Linked DNA regions of Homo sapiens: all the other regions are linked to region 4. The links come from fine-mapping of genetic effects on gene expression. A gene starts in region 4. Each other region holds a variant in brackets. All regions are shown on one strand. Distances are from middle to middle.

What was found. PIP is the estimated chance that this variant, and not a neighbour inherited with it, causes the effect.
Region 1: its variant is fine-mapped to the expression of KCTD12 in whole blood (TOPMed, PIP above 0.99).
Region 2: its variant is fine-mapped to the expression of KCTD12 in whole blood (TOPMed, PIP above 0.99).
Region 3: its variant is fine-mapped to the expression of KCTD12 in whole blood (TOPMed, PIP above 0.99).

The regions. Positions count from the first base shown.
Region 1 is chr13:76,763,274-76,765,773 of GRCh38, reverse strand. All of the region lies in intron 1 of LOC105370265 (a long non-coding RNA gene), which reads left to right. Among named protein-coding and RNA genes, the nearest start is that of KCTD12, 120 kb to the left of the region's middle. The variant C/T (reference allele first, on the strand shown) is at 1,144.
Region 2 is chr13:76,821,454-76,823,953 of GRCh38, reverse strand. No RefSeq gene overlaps it. Among named protein-coding and RNA genes, the nearest start is that of KCTD12, 64 kb to the left of the region's middle. The variant C/G (reference allele first, on the strand shown) is at 1,180.
Region 3 is chr13:76,735,346-76,738,105 of GRCh38, reverse strand. The region is part of intron 1 of LOC105370265 (a long non-coding RNA gene); the gene reads left to right. Among named protein-coding and RNA genes, the nearest start is that of KCTD12, 150 kb to the left of the region's middle. The variant A/T (reference allele first, on the strand shown) is at 1,223.
Region 4 is chr13:76,885,374-76,887,873 of GRCh38, reverse strand. It overlaps KCTD12 (potassium channel tetramerization domain containing 12), which reads left to right and starts at 1,469. Exons shown (of 1, transcript NM_138444.4): 1 at 1,469-2,500. The coding sequence starts at 1,726. RefSeq lists silencers at 1,242-1,671, 2,072-2,341 and an enhancer at 1,955-2,454.

The DNA of each region.
Region 1 (2,500 bases), 120 kb after region 4:
TAGCCTTGTAATAAGAGAAAATTTGGACACAGACACATATGGAGGAAAGCCTATAAGAACATAGCAAGAAGGCAGCCATCTACAAGCCAAGGAGAGAGGCCCCAGCAAAAACCAACCCTGCCAACACCTTGGTCTCATACTTCTAGCCTCCAGAACTGTGAGAAAAGAAATTTCTGTTGTTTATACTACCTGCTCTGTGGTATTTTATTATGACAGCCCTAGCAAGCTAATATATAATTGTTTTTATTATTACTAGTTTTAGCATAACAAAAAACAGTTCCTGTGACTAGACATCCTGGGTTCAAATTCTGGCCTCACTATTTATGAGTTTATAAGACCTTAGATCGTTCTGGTTCCTCCAAGATGGGGTAGATACATTCCTCGTAGGTCCTTTACAACTAAAAATCTTGGGCTTAATACAACACACCAGCATTGGAAGTCTTTGAAAAGCGAAAGAAGGCCGAGCTGCCCAGGACTTCAGGACCTGAGGAATGGCACTGTGGTGAGCTCCTGGGCTCTCTTATTTCCTCCTGAGTATCTTGCACAGGTGCTGTAGAAGCCTTTAAACCAGAGCCACAAACAGGCACAGACATAAAAAGCTCTGACAAAGGCCTGTTTCTAGGCAAAGGACCAGGAAGCATTTTGGCAGTACCTACCCTACTCTAGACAAATGCCAACCACCAATGGAAAAATGCCCCTCTACCCCTTACCCCCTGCTGGGCAGAAGATTCCATTCTCCTACCAGATGGTGCTAGCAGGACCAAATGAAACCAGGCTGTGCAATTCTCCTGCCAGGTTGGTGTCAGTGGGGTCCAGTGGTGATTTGAGTCTCCATCTAGACCCAGCAGCAATGAGACTTAAGTACATGCTGGGGTTCATCCGTGCTGCACTTTTTTTTCTGGTGTTAGTGGGGCCAAGTGGGGAGCTGAGCATCCACCCCCATCCAGTAGCAACAAGACAGAATTATGTGATGGGAGGCAGGCTAGTTGGTGCTCTGCTTCCCTCCCTCTCCTTACCTTGTGTCAGTGGAGCCCAGTGGGGTGGGAGTTGGTGTCCTGTTTCACCAGGAAGGTGTCACCAGAGCCGAAGAGGAAGCAGAATAGGAACAACCTATCTGCAATGAAGCAGTGTGAGTCAGTGTCC[C/T]ACTCTTGCCAAGGGAGGGTTTTCAGGGCCCAGTGGGAACTTGGAAGTACACACCCACCCAACCCTTGCACTGCACTTCCCAAGGGGACTTCCTGCTAAAAACAGAAGATTCAATAGGGTGTAGAGTTTCATAATAGAATATCTACAATTCCCAGAATACAATAGAAAGTCATGTGTCATTCTAAAAACCAGGAAGATCACAACATGCATGAGAGAAGCAAGCAGATGTGGAAGTGATCAGACAAATATTTTATAGCAGTCATTATAAAAGTTCCCCAGAAACAATTAAAAAATTCTTTTGAAACAAATAAAAAATTAGGAAATCTAAGCAAAGAAGTAGCAGTCATTAAAAAAACATGAAAATTGTAGAATTGAAAAAATTCAGTAACCAAAGTAAAACCTAGCTGGATGGGCTCAGTAGCACAATGGAGATGATAGAGGACTGAACCAGTGAATTTGAGGACAGATCAATAGAATAGACTCACTATGGATAAGACAGAAAATAGGCTGAAAAACAAAGGCCTTGGAGAAGTTACTTAAATTGTCTGGATTTTATTTCACTCATCTTTAAAATGAGGAACATAATTGTAGCTATGTCAAAAACAAATTTTGTGACAATTAATTGAGATATATAATAAAGGCTTATCTGATGCAATGCCAGGCACATAGTTCTCAATAAAATTTAATCTCTATAATTATTATAATTTCCCTGGGTAGATAGCCATGTGATTTCATCTCTGTACAGTTAATTCAATTCAATAAGCATTTATTAATCACCAGCTGTACACCAGTGAGAAGTAATATTTAGGCTACATGGTCTGGTGGAAACGACATAAGGAGTTAAATTCATATCCAGAATCTGCTACTTCTCAGCTGCGTGATCTTGGACATGATTTTGAGATGCCTGTTTCCCACCTATAAAATGATCAAAGGGCCTATCTAAAAGGGCTGCTTTTTGGAAGGATTAAGGAGCATCTGGTACATAGCAGAGGGAGAAAAATATTGGTTATATTCCTTGAATTTTCATCACAGACTATTAGTTGTATTGAGGTATAATGCTATACAAAGAACTGCATATATTTAATGTATACATGTTAATGAGTTTGGACATATGTAAACACCTGTGATCCTATCACCACAATCAAGGTAATAGACATATCCAACACCTCCCCGATTTTTCTCATCAAAGATTATTTTCCCCAACCATTCAAATTTTTTGAACATATAGAAAGGTTGCAAGAATAGTATAAGAAACACTCATAAAACTTCCACTTAATCCAAGATGATTTGAACAAATAATTTGAGCATGACATTATAGTAATTTGTGAGAAGTATAAAAGAGGAGATTGGCCTCCTT
Region 2 (2,500 bases), 64 kb after region 4:
AATGTGGGGCTACCCTGGGAATTTCATCTGAGACCTTATTTCTTAATCATTGCAATGCTCACCAACCTCTTCTGTGTTAATCTCAAATTGTCACCCTCTGCTCTGTGACTCCAGTTTGAAATTTCTGTTGTGTCTCATTCCAGTTTTCCACATCTACCTCCCTCCATCTCTCTGGAGTTAGTATCTCCTGAATCAGTTCCTAGCCTGGCTCAGGCCACATGAATTTCAGGCATTGTTTAGGAAAACAGAATTTGATTTGGGTGTCTCTAATGGCTTTGTCATTCCTTGTACTAATATTTAAACTTCTAAGGGTCTAATTTCAGTTATAGGAAAGTCTAACCTAGGATGGAATGACTTTGGATCATCAGCCTCATTATTGTCATCAGAAAGAATTGGTTTACTGCATTGAGCCTGGTTCTTTTCTGGGAATGGAGTATAGCAAGTTAAATAGGTATGACCCTCATCTGCATACATATTTCCATGACTAGACTTTACATTACACAAATAATTTAAAGTAGACTAAAGAAAGTATACACACAATAAAATAGTGAAACCTAAATTTTGAAAATAATAGAGCCAAGAGGTAAAGCATATTTGAGTAGACGTCCAGGTCGGAAGGAAATAGAAAATGCACATACGCTAAGTGTATCAAAGGGCTGAGATCCAGACCTTGTTGGAGAGGATATAGCTGTGGCTGACTGGATGGCAGACAAGTCCCTGTGATACTGTGCTGACAAAATTATCTAGAAATTAGCCCTCAGGAACTTGATAGTTCCTGTCCAGGGTGTTGGAGACAGCTGTTCACAAGGAGGTATCTCACCAGAGGAACTCTGCTACAAATCTGCCCAAGGGGGTTGTTGGGGGTACTGCTGGCTGCTGGGTGATGTTGGCCACTGTACCTTGTGGGAGCTGAGCCCTGGAGAAGCTGCTCCACTGCAGGTGCTGGGCTCTGGGAAGCCACATGTGTTGTGCTGTGTTGTAGGAGGAGCCTGGAGAAGCTATGAAGTCTAAAGGAGCCTGGAGGCCATGCAGCAGAACCAGGAAACTAAATACTTTCCTTCTGTGATGCTTCTCCAGAGCCCTCTACTGACAGAGTTTAACATCGTACCAGATGACAAAGGAAAAACACTTAAAGGGCCCTAGCTTCATCCATGTCCCTGCAAAGGACATGATCTTGTT[C/G]CTTTTTATGGCTGCGTAGTATTCCATGGTGTATATGTACCATATTTTCTTTATCCAGTCTATCATTGATGGGCATTTGGGTTGATTCCATCAGACAGAAGTATTAATAAGCTTTCTTCCATTGAACCATTCTCCGTATTAAAATAAAATGTTTTGTGAAAATTTGCTTTAAGAATTTTAGAATATACCCTTTCTGTAGATCATGATTAAGTTTGCATTATAAAATGGACATGTCTCAGTAACTAGCTAGTGGTTAAGAGCACTGTCTCTGAAGCTAGTCTGCCTGGGTTCAAATCCTGGGTCTGTCCCTTATTCTGTGTGCCCTCAGTTGAGTTACACAGGCTTCCTATCTGCAAAATGAGAATAATGACATTCACTTGATGGAGTAGTCATAAGGATTTATAGGTCTCAGAAGGTACCCAACACATCATCAACACTATTCAGATAAAAACCAGTGCTTCCAGATTAGTGAGAGAAGCTGAAGGGTCATATCTGTTTCTGCCAGCGTGTTTGCTTGAAGAATTAACTGCTGACTTGTTTTTCCCTGGCTCCCCTAGTAAACTACCTTGAACACAGTATGTGGAGCCTGAAATTTAAACTCAGGGTTCCTGGTGATTTGGAATCTCTAGCATAATAAAGGAAATGAAGCGAGTGGACAGATAGGCAGAAAGGAAGATGGAAATGCAGAGAGCAATAGGGTATCCTCTGTGGTTTAGTGCCTGAAGCAGAGTGGAAAGCGAGAAAGGTCCCGTGATCAAGGATGGGAAGCAAGAGCAGGAGCAGAGAGGGAAGTGGGAATCACAGACAGGTAAGGCTTGACGCCTGCCCACTCCTCCTCTGTCCTTTTTGTGGATAACACACATTGCTTACCCTAGCTGGGTGCCAGCTGATATGGTTTGGAATTGTGTCCCCACCCAAATCTCATCTTGGAGCTCCCATAATTCCCACATGTTGTGGGAGGGGCCTGGTGGGAGATAATTGAATTATGGGGGCTGGTCTTTCTTATGCTGTTATTGTGATACAAATAAGTCTCATGAGATCTGATGGTATTATAAAGGGGAGTTACCCTGCACAAGCTCTCTTTGCCTGCCACCATCCACTTAAGACGTGACTTGCTCCACCTTGCCTTCTGCCATGATTGTGAGGCCTCCTGCACCACATGGAACTGTGAGTCCAATTAAACCTCTTTCTTTTGTAAATTGCCCAGTCTTGGGTATGTCTTTATCAGCAGCATGAAAATGGACTAATGCACCAGTCCACCACAGCAACATTTTGCCAAAGATTCAATTGGCTTCTGATATGGTTTGGCTGTGTCCCCACC
Region 3 (2,760 bases), 150 kb after region 4:
TTTACACCCTTACCTTCTCCTCAGAGCAGATAATGCCCAAATCCTATCTGTATTAATTCACATGGGCTGCCATAACCAAGTACCACAAACCGAATAGCTTAAACAACAGAAATTTGTCTCACAGTTCTGGAGGCTAGACAGTCCAAGATCAAGATGTTGGCAGGGTTGGTGCCTTCTTCCGGCTGTGAGGAAGAATCTGTCCCATGCTGTCCCCTGGCTTCTGGTGGTTTGTGGCAGTCTTTAGCCTTCCTTGGCTTGTAGAAACAGCCCTCAGTCTCTGCCTTCACTTCACATGGTGTTCTCCTTGCATGCTGTCTTGTCCAAATTTCCCCTTTTTGGAAGGACATCAGTCATACTGGATTAGGGGCCCACCTGTTTTAGTATGACCCCGTCTTAACTAATTCCGTCTGCAATGGCTCTATTTCCAAATAAGGCGACATTCTGAGGTCCTGGGGATTAGGACTTCAACACAGGCATTTGGGGGCAGACACAATTCAACCCATAAGACCATCCAATAACTGCACTGAGCTCCATAACTAGAAAACCTTGTCATCAGTTCTAGATGCAGCTCTGTGTGCCATAGCAGCACAGAAATTGAACTGCATAGGTCCCTTCCCCCATACTCATCCAATATACCAAGGCAGAGTAAGAAGAGCACAATTATGACAAAAGCCCCATTTAGAAAAAGAGAGTGGAGGCTGGGTGCGGTAGCTCATGCCTGTAATCCCAGCACTTTGGGAGGTGGAGGCCAGCGGCTCACAAGGTCAGGAGATCGAGACCATCCTGGCCAACATGGTGAAACCCTGTCTCTACTAAAAATACAAAAATTGGCTGGGTGTGGTGGCGCACACCTGTAATCCTAGCTACTTGGGAGGTGGAGGCAGGAGAATCCCTTGAACCCAGGAGTTGGAGGTTGCATTGAGCCGAGATCGTGCCACTGCATTCCAGCCTGGTGACAGAGTGAAACTCTGTCTCAAAAAAAAAAAAAAAAAAAAAAAGAGTGGAGAACCAATGGCAGTAATTGTTCCACAGCAATTGTCTTACCTGCTGGGTGGGACTCTCTGCCTTGGCATTAGAGGAAGCGCCATGGTTTTTCCCTTGGGAAGTCCTGAATCTAGTCCATGGAGGATATTCTCTCTTGCTTGTTGTTTCTTGTGGCCACTGGGTTTGCTCTCTCATTTTTAATTCCTTGTTCATTTGTCCCCATGTTGATTCTGAGGTG[A/T]GCCTCAGAGAATGCCCAACTGAAGGTTGCAGAAGCCTTGTGGCTGCATAAGTCCCCACGATGTAGTTCCAGGACCTGAGCATTGCTTTGAGGACTGATCTGTCACTGTCTTTTGTAGGCTAGGTTTGAGGTTGCTTTAGCAGTACAAAAAGGCTTACAATTGCTTTGCTTCTGGTCAGTTCCATAGGTAAGAAACATACAGTGAAATATCTTATGTAGAGATGATAGAGGCCTGGACTAGGTGGAGGCAAAGAAGGTGCCCAAAGCACAAAGTGGAAGGAGGCATGCACTGTCAGGTGCTGCTCTGCCCTTGCCCAAGCCTGAGAATGAGGGCTTCTTTAGTTTTGTGTGCTGGGCACTTCCTTTTTTGTTTTGTTTTGTTTCTTTTGAGACAGGGTCTCACTTTGTCACTCAGGCTGGTCTTGAACTCCTGGACTCAAGCCGTCCACCCACCTCAGCCTCTCAAAATGCTGGGATTATAGGAGTGAGCCACCACACTGGGCCCCCCGGGCCTTCTTCTTTCTCACCCTTGCCTTGGCCCTGAGAGATTATATTTAACTCTAAAGTCTCTGGCCTTTAATTTACTGATCTCTTGGCTTTGCTTTTCCTATTTCCCTTCTACCAACTTAATGATGGCTTTAACAGTGGATTTATTTAGCAAAACACCACTTTTATTTTTATTTTTGGCTTGCAAGCTCATAAGATTTGTAGGACAGGACACCATTCTTATCTCCTGCTAAGGCTACTGCTTTGCTGCTGCCACAAAATCCCTCTTCACTTTGGGGTACATATGTTGACTTTTTCAACCCTGCCAGGATTCAGATTATGAGTCTTTCTGTCAAGTTGTAGGGGAGGCCACAAGCAGAGAGTGCTTCCCTCAGCCAAGTGATGTTTCCTTCATCTCTGCTTGCAGACTCATTAGCTCCGACCTTGAGTAATTTTGCAAAAGGTGGCAAGAAGGAGCTAGCAAACACTACGTTTTCCTTACACTGCAGCCTCAGTCAGCAGGTCATCTGCCTTTTAAGGTCAGAGGGTTTCATTTTGACCAAGGGTTTTACCACTGCAAAATGAATGCTGTCAGCTTTCCAGACCTCAGTGCTTAAATTCTCAATGCCAACTATTTGATTGCATCTACTAAGCCATTGCAATATTTTTAAATGTTGTCACGAATCTCTCCAATTTCAGGTTTTAAGTCCTGTATCAGATAAGATTACACCAGTGTGCACATGACAGAGAACTTAAATACGTTTAAACACACATGATATTTCTCTCATGTGAAAAGTTGAGAGGGAGGCAGTTCCTGGCTGGTATGAGGTATTTGGGCCCCTTCCTGCTCTCACCTCCACAGTTCCTAAGGTGCAGGCTTCATTTACATGTTCCAAAAGAGCCATTCCTGCTTTAGCCATCACTGTGATGTTCTGGGCAGTGGGATGAAGGAAGGGTGAAGAAGGATATGCTCTCTGCCTTAGAAGACTTCTCAGAAGTTTCATACATCACCTCTGCTTACCTTGATTGGTCATAACTTAATTACCTGAGTG
Region 4 (2,500 bases):
GATTTATCCTGATGTGTGGTCTATACTTCAAACTGATGTGATAACTGCGCAGACCCCTGACCCTTTGCTTATTGGGCTACACTGAAAGCGCTTTGGAGATTATTCGCCTTTGCATTCCTCACTCCCTGGTGCCCTGCAAATAATAGCAGGTACACAAGAAACATTCAGTGACCCAATCATTTCTTGACACCCTCCTCTGCACTCTTCTCTTTTTGCAGCATTCAGGAGCTCTTACTTATTTTCATACCCAAATCAGTGATCAGATAATCACTCATAAATATGACATTTCAGAACGTGCTGGGAGCAGCGCAGACAGTGTGTAGGGAGCCATCCAGAGGCCCCACCCACCTGGGAAGCCAGGGAAAGCTTCCAGGGGGAGGGGGCGGTTCTGTGGGCTGCAGTCCGAGGGGGAAAAGCAAACGTGTAGGCAGCAGGAGTTGAGAGATGGGATCCAGACAAGGGCCTTCAGATATATAAATATCCCTTTCTGAGACTGACGGGAACTTGGACAGGGCCGAAGAGTGACCGAGGCATGCGGGAGAGAAGGGGCGCCTGGACTTTTGGAAGGATAAACATGCAGGCGCCAAAGGTGGCTTTAAAAATTACGTTAGATCTGCAACTGTTGTGAGTCTAAGGGCGCGATTCAACGAAGGCTGAATGGGACCCGGAGACCGAACGTTCCGGAGTCTTACCCCTTCACTTCGAAGTGAAGTGCCTCGAAGGCCCTGCGGGAAGAGGGAATTGCAATTAAGAGCAGATTTGAAGCTTCATCTCATTTTGTCTCTGCAGCCAGAAAATAAACTATCGTAAAGCATCCTACTGCGGGACACTGAGGTTTGCTTTTTGTTTCTAGGTTTATTTATTTATTTTCCAGGCTGGCTGCAAGGCAACTTGAACAAAATCTGGCTGCGCTCGGACTGGGGCGGCTCTTTCGTCTCTCCAGGTTTTTCGCGTCTCTCTACTTTCAGTGACACGACAACCAACGATGGCAGGCCGCAGCTGCACTGCTGGAAGCGCCCAGTTCCGCAGGCGGGAGGGCCGGAGGCGGCCACGCATTTCCACTCCCGGGGCGACAGGCTTCCGAAAGTTCACGTCCTCCTTCCAGAGTCCTTGGGTGCGGGCTGGGGCGAGAGGGGAGGGGGCGCGGTGACTGTCCCTCCAAGGAGCTGTCTTCCGAAGCCGCCAAGTCTCGGGCGGGTCCTCTTCGGAAGAGGGAGAAAGTTGGGCGGGACCACGGGGCGGGGCTGGTGGGTGGGGAGCGGGTGGGAGTCCGGGCGCCCCCAGCGCTCGCGAGCCGGGGTGGAGCCAGCAGCCCCGCGTGGCGTCCGCGTTTAAGATGCAAATCGAGTCCCCGCTCCCCACCTCCCCTCGCCCGGTAAGCGAGGCTCCGCCGCCGCCCACGCCTCCTGCGCGCCACGGCACCAGAGCAGGCGGCTCTACTTAAGCAGCGCGCGGGCCGCGACCCGGCACTCGCCTGGAGCGCGCGGGCAAGGCGGGCGGAGCGCACTGGAACTCAAGGGGGCGCACAGCGGCGCGCTCGCACCGCTCGGCTCCGCGCGGCTCTAGGAGGTGGCGGCGGTGGCGGTGGCGGCGGTGGCGGCGGCGGCGGCGGCGGGGCGCAGGGCTGAGCGAGCGTCCGGGTTCCGGGGCTCCGGGGAAGGCGGTTGCAGCTCCTGAGTGCAGCGCGGCTTCCTGCCACTGTCCCGGCCCGGCCACCTCTCTGTCATGGCTCTGGCGGACAGCACACGTGGATTACCCAACGGGGGCGGCGGCGGGGGCGGCAGTGGCTCCTCGTCGTCCTCCGCGGAGCCACCGCTCTTCCCCGACATCGTGGAGCTGAACGTGGGGGGCCAGGTGTACGTGACCCGGCGCTGCACGGTGGTGTCGGTGCCCGACTCGCTGCTCTGGCGCATGTTCACGCAGCAGCAGCCGCAGGAGCTGGCCCGGGACAGCAAAGGCCGCTTCTTTCTGGACCGGGACGGCTTCCTCTTCCGCTACATCCTGGATTACCTGCGGGACTTGCAGCTCGTGCTGCCCGACTACTTCCCCGAGCGCAGCCGGCTGCAGCGCGAGGCCGAGTACTTCGAGCTGCCAGAGCTCGTGCGCCGCCTCGGGGCGCCCCAGCAGCCCGGCCCGGGGCCGCCGCCCTCGCGGCGCGGGGTGCACAAGGAGGGCTCGCTGGGTGACGAGCTGCTGCCGCTTGGCTACTCGGAGCCCGAACAGCAGGAGGGCGCCTCTGCCGGGGCGCCGTCGCCCACGCTGGAGCTGGCTAGCCGCAGTCCGTCCGGGGGCGCGGCGGGCCCGCTGCTCACGCCGTCCCAGTCGCTGGACGGCAGCCGGCGCTCGGGCTACATCACCATCGGCTACCGCGGCTCCTACACCATCGGGCGGGACGCGCAGGCGGACGCCAAGTTCCGGCGAGTGGCGCGCATCACCGTTTGCGGAAAGACGTCGCTGGCCAAGGAGGTGTTTGGGGACACCCTGAACGAAAGCCGGGACC